Linked DNA regions of Homo sapiens. The protein of the gene in region 1 purifies or fractionates together with the protein of each later gene. This does not show direct contact. Each region holds a gene or a part of one and is shown in the gene's direction. Other genes may lie near its edges. The genes, in order: DCUN1D5 and TLN2.

Evidence for each region.
Region 2: the proteins of DCUN1D5 (region 1) and TLN2 fractionate together in Homo sapiens (co-fractionation; one large-scale study listed by BioGRID). This does not show direct contact.

The regions. Positions count from the first base shown.
Region 1 is NC_000011.10:103,085,517-103,089,328, reverse strand, and holds part of DCUN1D5 (DCN1-like protein 5), read left to right. Parts: intron 1-10; coding exon 11-102; intron 103-3,812. UniProt on the Homo sapiens protein: Contributes to the neddylation of all cullins by transferring NEDD8 from N-terminally acetylated NEDD8-conjugating E2s enzyme to different cullin C-terminal domain-RBX complexes which is necessary for the activation of cullin-RING E3 ubiquitin ligases (CRLs).
Region 2 is NC_000015.10:62,389,116-62,393,654, forward strand, and holds the start of TLN2 (talin-2), read left to right. Parts: upstream 1-1,434; 5' UTR 1,435-1,570; intron 1,571-4,539. UniProt on the Homo sapiens protein: As a major component of focal adhesion plaques that links integrin to the actin cytoskeleton, may play an important role in cell adhesion. Recruits PIP5K1C to focal adhesion plaques and strongly activates its kinase activity.

The DNA.
Region 1 (3,812 bases):
GTTTTCTAAGCTATTGCAGATCCCAACCCCCTGCTAGACTAATAAGTGGAGAGGAACATTTTTCAAGCAAGAAGTGCCTGGCTTGGTTTTATGAATATGCAGGTAATGAAATTAATATAAGAAGATACTAGTCATATGCTTTAAAAAGTTTATTTGCCTTATTCATTTAACAAATTATCTGTTACAGGCCTGCTATGTGTTAGTGCTGTGTACTGGGATGAGGGTCAGGACTGAAGATTGTGGGTAGACTAAAAATTTGTTGCCAATTTAGGCTGATATTTCTTTAAATATATATTCGGTATATATTTACTGGGAGGGAAGAACTCATTTACTATTAATAAAACGTGTAAACAAAGATTCATTTATTTACATCTATTGGCTAAAGTAGTATTCTGGAAAATAAAAGGTACACAATAAAACATTTTTGTATTTGATATTGTGGAAAACACAAAGTACATAATAAAACATTTCTATTCAATATTCTCTTTTTGAAATTTTTCTGAACTAACATTTTCTGAAACTTTTGGGGAGACATAGTAAAAGATTTAAACCCCTCAGTTATAATTGTACAACACATTTACTTTTTAACAATTATCATTTAGCCATCCACTTCTACTAGAGATGCAATAGTAAGAAAATAAATAGACTGATATTAATACAGTGTGATAAATACTATATTCAGAAGATACACTGTGAGAGTTCATAGGAGGGATATATAACCCAGCTTTTAAAGTGTCATGGGAGTTTTCTAGAGGAGCTAACTTAACCTCAGCTAAATCTTGTAACTGGTGGATGAAGAGCCCTAGGCCCAGGATGGGGTTGTGTTTTAGAGGCGAAAGTCAAAGCCAGCCAGAGATGGGGCTGAAGAGTTAAGCAAATATATGCAAAAGAACACTTATACTATCTCATAAATATATATGGAATTTTTTTCCCCTTAGAATAGTTTTGTTTTTTTGGAGTTATTGATTTTAAAGCTTTTTTCTTTTCCTTTTCCTTTTTTTTAACCTGCTTCACTTTTTTTTCTCCTTCTTTTAATCACTATCATTCTCAAAATGTTTGTTTAAAATGGAAGTGTATATGTAGCTATTGCCTTATATTTAGTGCTCATCCACATTAAGGTCTAAAGTAGTATACTTTGAACTTGAGGTATAAGTTTAGGCTAATTGTATGGAATGTGAGACTATTTTGAAAGGGGGGCAGTAACTTTACTGTTGGAATCAGCTGAGTGATCCCAAAGTACAATTTTAAAATTGTTTAGTAACAGAACAGATTCTTTCTAGACCAGAAATAAATGCTATTACTGGCATCCCAAGACAACCACTAACCCAATTTAAATGAAGGGAATTCATTTCTTACTGACCTCCATTTAAAATGTTGACCCATTATCCCAAATGCCAGTTTTACTGGTATGAATGATATATAATCAAAAGGTCACCCATCTTATTTCACTTATAAAGGTTACTAGATACAATAGAAATAGAAAATATTTGCCTCAACTAGGAACTTTCCTAGGTAGTGTAAGATTCTAATTAAACATTTGTTTACTATATTAGCATTTTTAATAGCCAACATAATAATTGCATTATTCCAGGAATTGTCCCAGGTATATTATTTTTTCTTGTGACTGTTCTATTAAGTAGGTAGTATTATCACCACCTCCCACTACGACTTTATTTTTTGAGACAGGGTCTCACTGTGTCGCCCACGCTGGAGCGCAGTGCTGTGATCATGGCTCACTGCAGCCTTGAGCTCCTGGGCTCAGGCCATCCTCCCACCTCAGCCTTTCTAGTAGGTGGGAATATAGGCATGTGCCACCACGCCTGGCTAATTTTTTAAATTTTTTGTAGAAATGGGGTTTCAGCCGGGTGTGGTGGCTCACGTCTGTAATCTCAGCACTTTGGGAGGCCAAGGTAGGCAGATCACGAGGTCAGGAGATCGAGACCATCCTGGTTAACATGGTGAAACACTCTCTCTACCAAAAACACAAACAATTAGCCGGGCGTGGTGGTGTGCGCCTGTAGTCCCAGCTACTTGGGAGGCTGGGGCAGGAGAATGGCGTGAACCCAGGAGGCGGAGCTCACAGTGAGCCGAGATAACACCACTGCACTCCAGCCTGGGTGACAGAGTGAGACTCTGCCTCAAAAAAAAAAAAAAAGAAAAAGAAAAAAAGAAATGGGGTTTCACGATGTTGCCCAAACTGGTCTCCAACTCCTGGGCTCAAGTGATCTAATTGCCTCAGCTTCCCAGAGTGGTGGGATTACAGGCATGAGCTGCTGTGCTTGGCCATACCCTCATTTTATAGATGAGAAAACTGAGACTTAGATTAATTAATTTGCCCAAGATCATATAGTGACAAGAGCCAGGATTCAAACCCAGGTCCTTCTGATTCTAAAGTCCATGCTTTTAACTACTATGCTTTTATGTATTTTTTATTTAAATTTTATAATGTTTATATATAGTTATAAACATTTTATTATAATAGATATTATTTTATGTTTATTTTTTATTTAAGCTAATTTTCACTTTTGCAAAGAAAATATTGGTACTCTTGGTTAATTTCTGTCATCCATTCAATAAATATTGAGCACTTGTTTTGAGTCAGGCACTGTGCTGAGTGCTGGATATATAGTGCTGAGCAAGTCAGACAAGATCCCTGCCTTTGGGGGACTTGCCTTCTGGTGAGGAAGACAGTCAGTAAACAGGTATGTAGGCAAGATAAGTACAGATTGTGGGGAGTTATAAGGATAATAAATATGGTGAGGTTCAGGAATAGAGAAGAAAGAAGGGTTAGATGGACTTTCAGATAGAGTGATTAGGGAAGGCCTCTCTGTGGAGACCACTTTGTGCAGAGACCTGATTAGGGAGGAACCATTTGTTTGCCAAATAAACAGTAACTGTTCTGTCTTGAAATGGGTATGTCCGTATTAAAATGAAGCCAATAATTTTGCCTACTGAGAATAATACATGTAAAGCCCTTAGCACAATACCTGGTATATAGTCAGAACTCAAATGTTATTATTATTAAAACAGTAATAGCATTACAGCATCAGATTTACTGGTTGTGTGTTTTTTACAGTGTTCCAAAATTAATGACTCTTACGTAGCTCATGTTGAAGGTGCTGTGTCACTGAGAATTTTTTTTTTTTCCCCCTAAGCATCTGTTATGGCTGGCATGGTATTAGGCCTTGCAGATATAGCTAGGAACATTCCTTTATGGTTATAAAGAAATCAGGAAATTGATGGTGTTTTTCTTTTAGTTTTGAAAATATCACTAAACTTGTTACTATGGTATTATGTGTGATAAGGCTGTTGGTTTTGTTCTTTCACAAGACCTCATTCTTGAGTGATATTTAAATTAATGATTCAGTAATATACTGGCCTATGGTAATTGAAAACATGGAAAGTGAAAGGGCAGTTTTAAAGTCTCATAGAGTCAAAAAATAAGGTTGGAATTGCATAGTCCTAATATAGTACCTAGCTGGTGGAGTAGAGTGAACTCATAGTATGAACAAAATCATTTCTATAGCTTCTTCAATTGAGTGGAAACCTAGTTGTCCAAAAGAGTTAATTAAATTTAGCTCCAGAGGTTTTACCCAGAGAGTAGTTTTATTAGAAAGATTGGAAGCAATGGTATTGGAAGGATTAACATTTTGCAGTCCGGGGAAAGCACATTAGTTACAGACCTCGCTTTAGACTTAGATCTGTTACTATTTACATCACTTTGGCAAAGTCAGTTAACATTTACAGACCTTATCTAAGTTATAAGGTATTATATCTCTATGTAATCTCATTTGACTTGCTTCTAACCAAAT
Region 2 (4,539 bases), on another chromosome or scaffold:
GGTTATCTTTGCTGCTATGATACATACAGTCCGGTTCATCAGCCTGGTTAAGGACAGGGTATTGTTCTCACAGAATGTCCAGCCTTATCCAATGTTCCAACGGACTTATTCAAAATAATTTCAATTTACAAAATCAATTCAGTCTCCGGTTTATGGTGACAGCAGTTTCTTTCTCTGAGAAACACTAAAAAGTTGCCAGCAGTTCCATTTGAGTAACTGAATAGATTTGCTACCTATTTCCTGGTCCATTCTGTATTGGGATGGAAATAATGTCGTCTTTCCTTTTTTTTTTCTTTTTTGAGACAGAGTCCCGCTCTGTCATCCAGGCTGGAGTGCAGTGGTAGGATCACCGCTCATGCAGCCCCCGAGCTCCCGGGCTCAAGCGATCCTCCCACCATTCTCCCCAGTAACTGGGACTACAGGCATGCGCCCCCACACCCGGCTGATTTTTAATTTTTTTTGTAGAGATAAGGTCTCGCTATATTGCCCAGGCCGATCTTAAACTCCTTGGGCTTGAGATCTTCCTGCTTTGGCCTCCCAAAGTACTAGGAGTAAAGGGGTCATGGCTAATTCTTGTTTTTTTAAATTACTAATGTGTCCCTTACAGATAAATAAAAAAGTAAAATTACTCACAATTCCACCAATCACTGAGAGACTTATTGGTGTTTATCTATCCAGTCTTTTCTGCCTTTCTCCATAAATCACAGTTTTTAAAAACGGGACCATACGGTACATAGTGTTTTGTCTCCTCACCCCCTTGAATAACCTTCACATTGTTCCATGGTATTTACAGTATTTACTAATAATGACTGTAAATGTAAGAGGTATATAACTGACTTTATTCAGGGCATGGCAAGCAGGAGTGAATTATTTTCTTCTTATCAACACAGCACGCCCCTACCGCCACTCATCCCTATAGTCGTTCTCTAAATACCTAAGTGACACCTGACCAGCAAGGTTTCAGGGTCCTTGTGCTGAAAGGAGCAGGCTCGCCTGGGGTCACGGCCCTCCGCTTCGCAGCAAGACCCCACCGCCCACCACGGCCCTCCAGTTAGCCACAGCTCGCTTCCCCCAGGACCGGGCCAGAGGTCCCGAGAGGGCACTCTGCGGACCTAGGGGCCCCAGCCTACAAGACGCTGTGTCCTGCAGTCATCCCCTTTACACAGCAGAGCCCCAATTCTGGGAAGCCGGGGTCACCCCGAGCCTCCCTTCCCCGTGACAGCTCGGCCGGTGCATCACCTTCCCTCGCGGACCCTTTCAGCATCACCACGCGTGGGAGGAAACCCAGGACGGGCGCCTGAGCCTCGGTGGCGGCCCACCCCGGTGCCGCGCGGCGCCGCGGCCGGACCGGCGCCGCGCCGTCCCCGAATGATGACGCGCTTCCTGCCCTCCCAGCGCTCTCGGGCAGTGCGCTCGCGCTCGCCCTCGGCTCTTGTTCCGCGCCCGGAGCCAGCGGCGGCGGCAGCGGCTGAGGCGGCTGCGGGAGCGGAGTGGTCGCCCAGCGCGCGGGGGGACGCGGGCTGCACTCCCGGGCAGGCGCTCTGCAATGAGACAGTAAATGCATCCCCCGGTAAGGCGCACGGCTCACTCGGGTTTTCCTCTTCCTCCAGCTGCATGCACGTTGCATGAATTTCTCGTGTCTTTTCCCTCCCCTCTCCAGAAGGAAAATGTGGGGTTTTTTTTCCTCCCTTTTGCTTCTCGTGAGTGATGCCAATGCAGGAAAAACCCGTAAAGCTCCCAGATTTGATGGTCTAGGAGGGCTTCTTGCAGGAAAATAAAAATAAAATGAAATTAATGCACCTGTCTATTGCACATGTATGTTTCACTGCACCGGACCCGGGCGCAGCGGTTTGCAAACAGCCTCGCAGTCGGCGCCAGAGAGCGGATTCCTGGCCGTGGGCAGCCGGTCCCCTCCGGGGCTCTCGCTGGGTTTCCGGTAACTGGGCTTTGAAAAGCGGCCCCGCCTGCATAGAGTGTCCCCTCGACCCCAGCCGGGCCCCCGCGCCAGAAGAGTTGGCGCTGGAGGAGCAGCTTCATTCCAGCACTGGCCGCCGGGACTCCAGCGCCACTTTGCAAACAAGTCTCCCGCCGAGGCTCTGGGCTAAGACAGCCCGCCAGTGCGGAGTTCCTTCTCCGGTGCCGGACACTCAGACCTGCCGATCCCACGACTGCCCTTTACTTGGCAATCTCGCCACGGGCGAACTGCTGGCCGCTGAGCGACGGGGGCAGTGCCGGGCCGAGAGCGGGGCCAGGCTTTGCATCCAGTGCGGCTGGCCTCACACAGACTCAGCGGCTCCCTCTCCTTCCTCGGTCCCACGAGCTGAAATTTTGCGCCCATTGGAAGCTGGAGGGACCTGGAGACGAGTATTTCGGGATCCCTGAGGGGACCGAGGAACGACTTTCGAGGGCGCCATATTTTCAGTGGGTCTTGACTGCGGAGGGGAGGGGGCGAGCAGTTTCTGGGTCCCGGGGAGAGCCCCGCGCCCCAGTCGGAGAGGCCTGATCGGTTGTCGCCGGGAAAGTTTGCGCGCCGAGGCAGGCGCGGAGGCGGCCGCACAAGGCGCGCACGACTGCTGTCCCCGCAAGGGCGCGCGGACTACAGCGCGTCGCCACGCCAGCCGGCGGGGCTTGGGAACGAGAGCCGCCGTCACGGACAGCGTGCTGGGCTTGCCGCCTTCCTCTGTCCCGCCTGGACCCGGCCTTGGGGCTCCGAGGCTCAGGGAACACGCCCCTCTTCCCCGCAGCTACCGCTGCCCGGGTGCTCAGCCGGAGCCGTGCGCTGGGCGGCGTCCCGGGGCTGGGCGCCGAGTGTAGAGCGTTCTCCCGGTGCCCGGGCTCGCCTGGGTGCTCCGAGGGGCGCAGTAGCTCACTTCCTGGGGGAGAGGAGGCGCCTTGGTTCGTGGATCAGGACCAGGGCCTGGCCTGTGGTCGCCCCGAGGCCGCCGAACAGCCTGAGCTTCCAGTCGCCTCTTTGGCTTTAGCGGCGACAGCAGTAGCGCCCGCGGCTGCGTGTTCTGCTCTCGCAGCTCGTAGAGGCGAGGAAAGGAGGGCGTTTCCAGAAGTTGGGGCTTCAGGTGACGCGTGGGGAAACTTGGATTCTTGCTGTCCTTGAAGAGCTGGGACAACTTAGGCCAGAATTCCTGTGTCTCATAGTGAAAACTTCTGGTTCTTTCCAGAAGATGAGAGAGGAATGAACTGAAGTGTTGGCGTTGTCAAAGACATAATTAAAGACGGTTGGGTAGGGATGATGTCTTGGAGAAGTGGTCCCCAAAATACACGTAAATTGCCCTGGTGCTGTAAGTACCACTTACTTTTCCATTAATAATACCTGGGTGTGTTAAGCTGTGGCATTGTAAGGTTGCACGCTGACCTCCCTTCTCCAGAGCTTGGAGGCAGCGACCTCTCTGGAGTGAGGGGGAAGCGGGAGTGGGGAATCTTTACTTTTGAAGTAGACTGTGACCTCTGCTTTGTGATGGGACAGGGCACGGGCGTGTTTGCCAACCTACAGGCAGCCAATTGCAGGAACGTGTTCTCCTTGGAGTGTTACCGAAATGATGTCATAGTATTGAGGTTTTGTCGGCACTTCCGGTCTTCTTCACTGAAGAGGCTAGAAGGGACCACAGAAACCTCTGGGGTTGGGGGTTAGGTGTGCAGAGGGAGGGGAGAGGCTTTCCTGTGGGAGATGTGCCTGGAGATGTTAGGTGTTAGGCAGCTCTTTCCCTGATTCATTTCATGAAGCGCCTGCAAAAGTGACTCCGATATGAATGTCAGCCAAGATTTTACCTACCTTGATTGCTTATTTGGGACCTCTATGCAAAATCAGAGGATGGCGGTGGGTGTGACAAGTGGTCTTGAGAGAAGAGGGATGCCTACACGAATGCCTTTTTTTTTTCATTGAGCACTAGAATAGTGGAAAACACCCAGAGCCCAAGATATATTTTTCCAAAATTAGCATAGCTAATTTAGAAGAGAAATCAGTTGCAGAAAGCCTCAATCCGTTTTAAGTTTCCAGTCTTAGAGGGAGCACCTTAATCACAGAAACAGGTCTCTTCATATTGGGGAAGCCACTGGTTTCTCTCTGCCTTTGTAACCATTTAAGTTATCAGGGAGATTCCAAAGAGTATTAGAGGGTCTCTCTTTTTGGCATTGATGTGGAGCTTCTACCTCGAAAGAGAAAGCGAACTTTTAACAACTTGACCCTGTTGAATGAGTTACTAGGGATATTCTGTACAGGCATAGGCTATATATGTGTTTTGAACTCATCTACTGCTGACTCATTCAGGTTTTTCCAAACACTGTTCCCTAGAGTATTTTTAAGTGAAATTAGGGTTTAGGAAGAGGTGAGTATGTTATTTTCTAGTCAATATCTGTCTTTTCTCTCTCAAAATTAACCTGATTTCCCCTCCTTCACCCCTCACTCCCAGAACATCGTTAGTTCTCTAGAGCAGTAAAGGACGATTACAGGTGGTGAATGATATAAATTTTTACCAACTATGCTCAGAAAAAAACTATGCATCTAAATAGGTATTTATGCATTTT